Linked DNA regions of Homo sapiens: region 2 is linked to region 1. The links come from fine-mapping of genetic effects on gene expression. A gene starts in region 1. The other region holds a variant in brackets. All regions are shown on one strand. Distances are between the middles of the regions.

Region 1 (5,378 bases):
ATTGCTGATATTCAGCCATTTTTTACTTACACAAACATTCACTCCATGTTCTTTGATCTATGAGATCACTGAGAGAGGTGGCACAAATACTGTTAGGTATCGTCCAAGGGCGCCACAGCAATGCCTGTCCATGTCTGAGTAGCGCTGCCTGTCCAGGACTATCCACCCAGAACCTATGTTAGGTTTGCTACAAGGTCTGTTAATAACCAAACCCGCACATAACTAACAAGATTATCGACTAGGCTGCTTTTTTTGAAGAAGAGCTTTCAAAACTTCCAACATCCCTTCAGCTAATATTTGCAAACATGTTTAATCACAGATTTGGGAACAGAACATCTGTTCGTTTGGTAGAGCAAGCTCTTTTACTCACTTCACCTTTCTTTTCTTTTTCCCTTCCTTCCTTCCTTCCTTCCTTCCTTCCTTCTTTCTTTCTCTCTTTCTTTTCTTTCTTTCTTTCCTTTCTTTATTTTTTTTTCTTTTTTTTCGGGGTCTTATTTGTCGCCCAGGCTGGAGTGCAGTGGCACAACCTAGGCTCACTGCAGCCTCGACCTCCTGGGTTCAAGTGATCCTCCTGTCTTAGCTCCCCAAGTACCTGAGACTACAGGCACACACCACCATGCCCAGCTATTTTTTTTTTTTTTTTTTTGTAGAGACAGCATTTCACCATGTTGCCCAGGCTGGTCTCAAACTCCTGAGCTCAAGCGATCATCCGCCCTCCTCGGCCTTCAAAAGTTCTAGGATTACAGGTGTGAGCCACCTCACCGGGCCTCACTGTTTCTAATAGGTGGATCAAATCCTCACTCAATGAACATTCTCCAAAGGACCATTTATTTCATTCAGAATTTTAAACATTTCCATTTGTTTATTTGTAAATGAAAAAGACTTTGTGTATCCCCACCTTTCATTTTTTTTAGAGGTTTTCTGAAACATGGAGGCAGCATATTTTATGGCACTGTGTTAGTTCAGGCTGCTATAACAAAATACTGTACCTTAGACTGGGTCATTTATAAACAACAGACAATTATTTCTCGTAGTTCTGGAGGCAGGTAAATCCAAGATCAAGGTGCCAGCAGATTTGGTGTCTGGCGAGGGCTCTCTGCTTCATCAGTGGCTCCTTGTTGCTGTGTCCTCACATGGCAGAAGGGGCAAATAGGCTCTCTGAAACCTCTTTTATAAGGGTATTTTGCTTTAAGGGCATAGAAGATGGAAGGGATTAATTTTTCTTGGGGCATTTGGGGAAATCACGAATGAGTGGTGACATTTGAGATTGTTGGATAGTTGGTGAGTGAGTCAAAGGAGAATAAAAATGGAAGGAACATTAAAAGGGCTCAGTCCTTGAGAGAGGAAATCCCAGCTCATATTTACCTTTGAGGTGATGAAAGCAGAAGGCAGACGCAGTTGTAGCTTCTACTGAAGGTGATAAACAGATGTGCCATGGGATTAAGCTCCAGTATTTAATGGCAGGAGCCCTGGGTAGCTTCCTGTGTCCTGTGGCTGGGGCATACCTAGGGCTGGGATAGACGCAATATTTCTCAAAGTAAATCAGAGTCCTTTGTCAGTGGGATAAAATGCTGATTCTCAGGCTCCTCAGCAAACCTACTGAATCAGATTATTTTGGTGCAGGGGCCTGGAGATTTGCATTTTTAACAATCTCCCCAGAGGTTTCCTTGCACCCTCAAGTTTAAGAACCACCCTTTCAAAGCGTGATTTCATCACCCAGGAGACATTTGGTAATGTCTGGAGACATTATTGGTCATCACGATTGTGGGGGTGCTACTGGCATCTAGTGTGCAGAATCCAGGGATGCTGCTACACATCTTACAGTGCACAGGACAGCCCTCACGACAAAGAATTATCCTGCCCAAAATGTCAATAGTGCTGAGATTGAGAAATCCTGAACTCCATCATATGAAGGGCTCTCAAGGAAAAGTACAAGAAGTGGACTGAAGTCAGTTTGTGTCACTAGGTGGCTCCTTAGGCTACTCAGGCAGGGGGCTAGCGTTATGGGCTTCCAGGCCCAGTTATCGGACCACCAAATTTTCACAGAACTGGGCAGAGCTCACATGTATTGAACCCATGCAGCTGACACTCCTGAAGCCACCAATGCATTATTTGCTAAGTAATTTTTTTTCCTCTGATACCAACACATTTAAAATCTTTATTGAATTATCGTCACAAAATTGCGGTCATTTCTTGGGGGAAAATATGCCATTAGTTCTACACAAAGTACTCTTTGCTCAACTTGCACTTTCTTGAAATCCAGAAGGTAGATTTACATTAAAATCATGTTGGCTAAGAGTTGAAAAAAGTTATTGCTTATATGGAGTTAAGAAAGCAAACTTTGGAAATTTTTTTTGGTCTGAGTTTGTTTCTAAGAAGCCAACTACTTCTCCAGCTCTCCTGCAATCCTGCCAAGGTGATGTCCAGCTTGTCCCTGTTAATAAGTTCAACAGATCAACCCTGTAGGGAAGCCAAACCATAGAGAAAGGTGGATGCACTAAATTTTTTTTTTTCTGAACAAAATGTCAGTGTGTATTGTTCTATGACAATAGTGTTATTTGAAATTATGCCTCGGGCCTTCAGTAGGTAAAGATTCTTGTTCATTTGCTGCATTTCAAAAAAATTGTGTGCACGTTCCCATTAAGATTTATTTTTCTTAAATTGAATATACAGTTAATCTATATGCAGATGAGGTAGGTAACACCCTCCTTTCTGGATTGTTCGTTTTAGTTAAGGTGTTACTCATAACAATTTGGTTTCCTTTCCAGTCTTTTGCAAAAGTAGGGCTTCAGTGCAAGATATCCTTTTAAAAATACCCTTGGGTCCTGAGTGTTGAACTTTTCTGGCTGAAATAATTTTGCACCTTCCAAATGTTTTAATGCTGTTAGGGAGCTCTTAAAATGCAAGGATTTAAGGCCCTTAGCTAGTTAAGCTTTTAGCAGAACTAGAGCTGTTAGATAAGAATAGAACTCATCCTTTACTTTTGGAGCTTTGGACATTGTTTCCAGCTGCTTCCAGTCATTTGAATCCCGAAAGCGCCCCTAATCCTCGCGGAGGCAGCCTTTCTGGCTCCCAGGACCCACCCCCTTGCTTCTGATTGGCGAAGCTCCTCCGCGGCCCAAGCCAGCCACCTACAACGTCTCTGAGAACTGATTTGAAATAAGAGCCAGGCGGTCCTCGCTTCCCTGCGACCGACTTTTCATAGGCTGGGGGAGAAAAGGTTGAGAAACTTGACATTGTCTCGAGCAGAGTGCGTGTAGCAACAGATCAAAGAAAAAGAGGACGAAAACGTGCTCTTTGCTGCCCGTAGATTTCGCCGGGTTGCTTTTGTCTTGCGGGCTCCTGTCGGGTTCGGTGTTTCCGCTCTGAAGACTGCGACGCGGGCTCCGATGCAGCTCGCTCCCTGCCGGATGGGTCATGGGATTCTAAACATGAGGCAGGTAAGCTCAGGCGGTTGCGCTGGCGGCGGAGGGGGCGGGCGCCGCCCGGGACCCCTGCGACGTGTTACTGCGGAGAGCTTGCTGGGTTAGCAGGCGCCTGGCCGTAGTCGATGCGTTTGGCGGAAAGACGGGGCTGCATTTTCCTAAGACAACCAAAGAAGCACATTTTACCTGAGCCACCCCGGTCTGGTCCTCGCCACCCGCCCCCACTTTTGCCTCTAATTGTGGTTGATGTCAGGCAGTCGTTGTAAAGGGCTTACAAGCAGTTTGTAGAATATATGTAAATCAATTCCAGTTTGCGGCCGCTGGAATGTATCGTGCAGGATGTATCTCGAGCTTTTAGTGCCTCTACCCTATGCTTTGGGCTAGAATAAAGACAGCTGAATGTCCTGAAAAAGAATTTCACGGGGCCTCTTATCTCATTTTGGTTTCGCATTCTGAGCACTTACTGTGTTTCTGGCGGAGAAGGCGGAACCAGCTTGAAATGAGCACAGACAGTCCTTCCAGAAAAATGCAAATTTGTTTTTCTGTTCTAGCAGTTTGGAAACTGTATTGCTTCTGGACGTGAGAAGGCAGCCCTGAAAGTAGTGAGCGGAGAAAGGGCTGGGGGATTACTTAAATGAGTCTTTGAAAAGAATTCTAAACCAACAGCTTCTTCTGTGGCTCTGGGGCATGATGATAAAATTCCTTATCAGTCCAGGAAGAGGTTTATAGCTTTGCTGTTAAGCAAGAAAAGGAAAGAAAAAGTGGATGTAGGAAGCCAAGGAGAGGGTGTGATTTACAACTCAATCAAAGTTATGGAAGAATTTTATGTCAATATTTAAATATCAAGAACAATACTCATATAAGGAGAAAACAAGGCTGGAAAAACATGCCAATAGGCTTGGAAGGGCAGGGATTTCAAGAGGAATGCTATTGCTTTTACCAGCTCTGAATAAATCTGGATGGGAAAGTTAGCATCTGTATCGCAACCGGAAAAGCTCTTCACTTTTTCTTCTAAGTGGGTTGGGTGCTCGCCACCCTGCACACTTTGGGGGAAGTGAGCTTTCCATTTAAGAGCGCAGGGGAGGGGTTTCGAACTTTCTGTCCCTTTCCCACAGCCTTGGGAGATGAAGCAGAGCCCCCTTCGAATGGTCAGCGCAAACCCTCCGCCTTCTTGCCCCCTCGCTTGTTCGCTCAGCAAGCAGGCTTGGCAAGTTTCAGTGAGTGCAGAAAAACACTTGCGGAGGAGCAAGTGCCGTCTGCTTGCAATGAATTGCCCTTGCCTTGGTAGGGACTGTGGGGAGGACGTCTTTAAGTTCTGCAAACTCACAGTCCAACCTCATACTTTTAATGTCTACTAAAGTGGGATGAGGAAAAGGAAGGAGAAGGGTAATTGGAAAGGATTGAAAAGGAAAAAGAGGAACGCAAAACATTTTTGACAAAGGTCCTTAGCTGGAACAAAGAAGTTATTTGATCCTGTGCAGAGCCACCTGTCCTCTCCTCGGTGGTGTCTGAGCTCAATTTCCAGAATCCCTGTTCCCACACAATTCCTCAGGAACCATGGCAGTCTCCGTGCCTTATGCCTAAGGTTTGCTTCCCCCAGCTTGGAATGGTTTTTCCCATGCCTAGTTTGTTGTGGCATTTACGTGAAGTTGGAAAACAGCCCAGTATTGAAATTTTAGGGGTACAAGTACACATATAGTGAACTCCTTAGTTATTTAATGAATGGGCAACTTTTCATCTCACAGCTACGTATGTCTACTAATTTTTTTGGCCTGTTCAGAACTTTGAAAGAGGGTGGGATGGAACAGGGGAGGAGATGAAGGAGAGAGACAGGATCATTGTTCATCCAAAGAACGAGGACAGTTTCCAGAATCTAGCATGTTGTTCCACTGCAGTCAGAACAAGAATGTAGGGAGGAATGAGATGGCAGTGTTATTGGCATGGGTTAATCCC
Region 2 (5,378 bases), 340 kb after region 1:
CTTCTGCCATGAATGGAAGCTTCCTGAGGTCCTTACCAGAAGCTGATGCTGTCGCCACTTCTTGCAGAACTGCCTGCAGATCTGTGAGCCAAATAAACCTCTTTATAAATTACCCAGCCTCGGGTATTCCTTTATAGCCATGCAAAACAGACTACGACAAGGTCTGAGCTTTAGTAGAAAGTCATTCCTTCTTTAGGACTGGAGGATCAAAGGAGGTGGTACAGCCAGAGCCCAGGAGCTGGGGCAGCCTGGAGGGAGCTGGAACCATGACAAGGACTTGCCCAGAAGAAGTACATCCATGGAGGGAGGTGCTTTCTGCTGGGATAGAATCTAGGAGGCAAAGCAGCCACATGTAGGCCTTTTGGAAGATGATTTCTGAGAATTAGGAAAATTCATGGCTTTATGTTTGGCAAATTCACATTAAAAAAAACATTACGGCAGGACTCGGCCAGTATTTTACCTTGGAAATAATATATGCATTTCTTAATGATTTCTCTAGTCTCTGAGAAACTATAAGGGCTCAGCTGGCCCCTTAATCTATATGACATTTTTATGACAATGAAACTATCACCCCAAGGAGAGTCTTTTGTTCAATTGTCAGATTTTATTGGGCTAGCATAAGCTAACAAAGCAAAATAAAATTATACAGCTAGTATTATATTTAAAACATCAATTTATTACATTTAAAGCTATACCCAAATAAATAAATACACTGGCCTTTGGTGTCAACCAAACAAAATCAATCACACAGATGTTTAATATCTGATTATAATTTTTCCCTACAAGTAAGCTTCTTTGTCTGGACCACAGATAAGAAGATTCATCCTCCCAAACATAATAAGAATTTTAATGGCAACTCAAACTAATTTTATGTCCTTTTGTCAGTCCCTTGCAGAAGTTTTGTGTAAATAAATCTAACTCCTTCCAAAGCAAAATTGTATATCTTTTGGGAGGGGAGCAACTTCTTTCTTTTTCCCTTGGACTTTGAACTGTGGAGTTATACACACTTGGGGTCAAACCATCATTCCAACACTTGTCACTGTGACTCTGGCAAGTTGTAGAAGCTTTGTAAGTATCGGTTTCCTTATTTGCTAGAAATAAGTAAACAAACAAGTAAATAAATGCTGAGGATTAATCTCTGTAAAGCACTTAGAACAGTAACTGACCCATAATAAGTATTCAAGAATTGCTAGCTGCTTTCTTTTCTCTGGAATCACTAACTTTTCTCCAAAAACTCACTGCCTTCTTGATCCAGTTTAACTGCCAATCAGTGATATTTGGCCAAAAATATTTAGCTTTGTCCCAGGGGATCACATGTCCTTGTGTGGTCTAGTATGTATTAAATCTAGCTAAACTACAGAACCACCAGGGAGCTTTAAAAATACAATTTCCCAAGCCCAATCCCAGGCCCACTGAGTTGTAACCCTCAAGGACAGAGACCTAGATCTACATTTTTAACAAGCCCCACCCCCCACTTAGAAAGCAATTAAACAGGTGACTCGGATGATATATACAGCTTGCCTTTTTGCCACTCATGAGGCAGGGTTATTAATCAACTTGACTATTTCCTTCACCTGAAATCCATAAGTGCTTTGCACACCTCTATACAATATCTAAACTTCATCTTTCCAGAAGACAATCTCAAGAAAACACAAGAAATGCATCCCCCCCCCCATTTTTTTTTAATGAACTGCTTTCAATTTTATAACCTTCAGGTTAATGTCACATTTTCTTGCCATTGGCATTTTCAGATGTAGGGTGGACTTTAAAAGTCAATATAAGCTGGAAGAAAAAAGATCAAACAGCAGAGCCTCCTCAAATGTCACTGCTATTGAGAATGGCGGCCACTGATATTACAGGGTCCAACGGTCCTATTCATATTATTTCTCTTTAATACCAAACCTTTTTCTAGCTAATCTGTCAGAAAAAAAAAGCCATTTCTGGGTGGTGATTTTTCAAGCAATGGGAGTTTTCATTTTGCTTTTCATAAAGTCACATAGTTCCAAGCAGACAGACTGGCGACAGAAATCATATTCCAAACACAGATCGAACAGGGTGTGTCACTAAAAGCCTGTGTGCACATTCACAGCAGATGCCAAGCAGCCATCTGTGTGGGGCCAGTTGGAGCTCACAAACACCAGGCCTGTAATTGCTAGAAAGGGCCTGG[C/A]AGTGCTAGTACCTCTTCATGCCAGGCCATCTTGGTACTTCCAGGGGGTCAAGTATAATGACAAAATAAAGCCACTCTTACCCCCTTATAGTCACTTTTACTCTTTACTCTGTCTTCTCAATGTTTAAGGGGAGGTCTTGGTTAGATTTTGCCTGAGGCAAAAAACAACAGCATCTTTTACTAAGAATTTTACATTGTTCCCTAACAACCACCCTAAAAAATAATATTACTATCCCATTCTAACCAGTACAGAAAGAGGTGAGTAAAGGTTCAAAGACAAAGAGCTGTGGGTGGAGGGATAAGTACTCTTTCAGGATGTCAGATTCTTAGCCCAGCTCATCCCCTGCCACTTGGTCATGTTACAAAAGGGTAAAGTTGACAACACTGACTTTGCCTGACTTTTCATTGCCCCAGCTTGAAGAGTTAACTATTCTAAAATATTTGCACTGATTTGGGATGGCTGGACTGAAGACTTTTAAGGGCACTCACTGAATGTTTATGAAAAGGAAGGAGGGAAGGAGGGAGGGAGGGAGAAAAGACAAGAGAAGGAAGGAAAGAAGGGAAGAAAAAAGATGAGGAAAAGAGAGAAAGGAGGAGGAGGAGAAAAGGAAGGAGGGAAGTGAGGGGAATAAAGGAAGGAAAAGAAGGAAGGAATACCCTGTTGAGGGCCCAAATTGAACAAAAAGGTGGAGAAAGGGCAAATTCTTTCACTCTCATCTTGAACTGGGTACTATGTGATGGATGAGAGTTCGTGATGGATGAGAGTTCATGATGGAACTCTGGTCCATTTTCTCCTGCCCTTGGACATTAGAGCTCCTGGTTCTCAGACCTTTGGACTTGGGCCGAGTTACACCACCAGCTTTCCTGGTTCTCCAACTTGCAGATAGCACATCATGGGACTTCTCAATCTCCATAATTTCATGAGCCAATATAATACATATACATATGTAATATATAAATCTTCATACACACACACACACACACACACACATACACACACACACACTCTCTCTCTCTCTCTCTCTCTCTCTCTCTCTCTACTAATTCTGTTTCCCTAGAAACCCCTGACTAATACAGATGGCAAATGGGATTACAGATGTGACTTACTTAAGGATCTTGAGATGTGGAAATTATCCTTATTATCTGGGTGACCCAATATAATCACAAGGGTCCTTATACCAGGAAAGCAGAGCAGGAGAGTAAGAGGAGATGTGATGATGGAGACTTTGGAGCAATGCCTTTTCTGGCTAGAAGAGGGCCATGAGCCAAGGAAGCTGGAAAAGACAATAAAGAGATTGTCCTCTACAGCCTCCAGAAGGAACCAGTTCTGCCGACGCCTTGCTTTTAGTCCTGTTTAGTCCCATTTTCAGACTTCTGACCTCCAAAACTATAAGATAATGGATTTGTGTTGTTTCATGCCACTAAGTTTGTGGTGATCTGTTACAGCAGTGGTAGGAAACCAATACACCAGAAATAATAGCAGCCTTCTTATCTCAGTCAAGAGTCCCCAGACCACAGGGGCCAAAACCAGCCCCTGATAGAGTCCCGTGTTAGAAACTTGTATCTCATTGAGATGTGCTACATGCTGCAGGTTACATGCAGACCACAGTCCACTGGGCCTGAAGATGTTCTCCCTCAGAGAACACCCACCAAAGGGAAGGGTACCTTTCTCCCCCGCCACCCACAACTATTTCTTTTATTTCTATAACAACACTGCCACATTCAAAAGTGGCCATGCTTACCAATTTGTCTGAATATTTAAGATATTTTAAGGAAAACGGAATATTATTTTGCCACAGAACCTTTTTGTGATAGATTTACAGGATGTACCCCACCAGGGAATTAATCAATTTTAATCCGTTGTTGCAACAATTGGTTCATCTGTGAAATCAGAAGAACTAATGTTTCTGTCTATGTATGTACAATTATGCATCGAATTCAATGACATAATGATACTCTATCAATATCCTACAAGCTTCCCCTTTTTTCTCTTTTGAGACAGGGTCTCACTCTGTCACCCAGGCCTGAGTACAGTGGCACAGTCATGGCTCAGTGCAACTTCGACCTCCCAGACTCAAGCGATCCTCCCACTTCAGTCTCATGAGTAGCTGAGGCTGAGGACTACAGTAGCTCCCAAGTAGCTGAAGTGGGACTACAGGCACGTGCCACCGCGCCAAGCTAATTTTTTTTTTTTGAGCCGGGGTTTTGCCATGCTGCCCAGGCTGTTCTTGAACTCCTGAGCTCAAGCGATTCACCCAACTCTGCCTCCCAAAGTGCTAAGATTACAGGCATGAGCCACTGCACCCAGTCAATATCCTACAGTTTTCTAAGTGTTCCATCCAGTTTGACGATCTTTGTTAAAGGCTTGCTATACCTTTGGTGTATGAGTAACCACAGTTAGGCTTTCACCAAAAGAAAAAGATTTCATTTTGAACGTCCCAATGGTCCTGTCAACCACTATGTCATTTTTACAACAATCAATTCTCCAGCACTAACTGGGTTTCCCACCATTTAATTCAATGGAGACATTAACTATCCGGAGTTAGCACAGACCCCACAGGTAAAGAGCTCAGTCCCACATGACTGCTCTCACTTCAGATGCTAGCCACAAATGGGGTCACCAGGCTCCCTGCACTTCTGCCCAGCCAATTACAAATTCAGGAGTTCCCATGACTTGCTCCCCATGTGGGTTTGACAATTCGCTAAGATGACTCACACAACTCAGGAAAGTGCTATAGTTACAACAGTTTATTATAAAAGGTACAAACAGCCAGGTAAAGAGGTATATAGAGCGAGGTCTGGAAGGACCCTGAGCACAGAAGCCTCTGTTCCCAGAAAGATGAGGCATGCCACCCTCCCAGTACATTGATATATTCACCGACCAGGAAGTTCCCCCAAACCTCATTGTCCAGTTTTTACTGAGGTTTCATGTAAGCACTATTGACACACTCATTGGCTATTGGTGATTGAATTGAATCTCCAGATCCTCTTCCCCAACCAGGGGTTGGGGATGCAGCAGAGAGTTCTAACTCTCTAGTCATGTGGTTAGCTTTTCTGTCAACTAGCCTCATCCCAAAGCTGTTTAGCCCTCCTGCCCTATAAGTCATCTCATTAGTATAAACTCAGGTATGATTGAAAGGAGCTTGTTATGGATAACAAAAGACAAGGTATGGAAGGCAATGGTTATACAGGAGTTAGCTAGTCTTGCTAA

Direction of the effects. Alleles are on the strand shown, and positions count from the first base shown. SD is a standard deviation of normalised expression in the study named.
With allele A in place of C in region 2, the expression in cerebellar hemisphere of the gene that starts at base 3,145 in region 1 is higher (moderate effect, 0.70 SD a copy in GTEx).

Evidence for each region. PIP is the estimated chance that this variant, and not a neighbour inherited with it, causes the effect.
Region 2: its variant is the best candidate, but not a certain one, in a credible set for the expression of MID1 in cerebellar hemisphere (GTEx, PIP 0.87).

What each region holds. Positions count from the first base shown.
Region 1 is chrX:10,618,352-10,623,729 of GRCh38, reverse strand. It overlaps MID1 (midline 1), which reads left to right and starts at 3,145. Exons shown (of 10, transcript NM_000381.4): 1 at 3,145-3,440. LOC124905245 (a long non-coding RNA gene) reads right to left here and starts at 4,029. Exons shown (of 2, transcript XR_007068391.1): 1 at 3,890-4,029; 2 at 806-3,583.
Region 2 is chrX:10,276,989-10,282,366 of GRCh38, reverse strand. No RefSeq gene overlaps it. Among named protein-coding and RNA genes, the nearest start is that of CLCN4, 120 kb to the right of the region's middle. The variant C/A (reference allele first, on the strand shown) is at 2,168.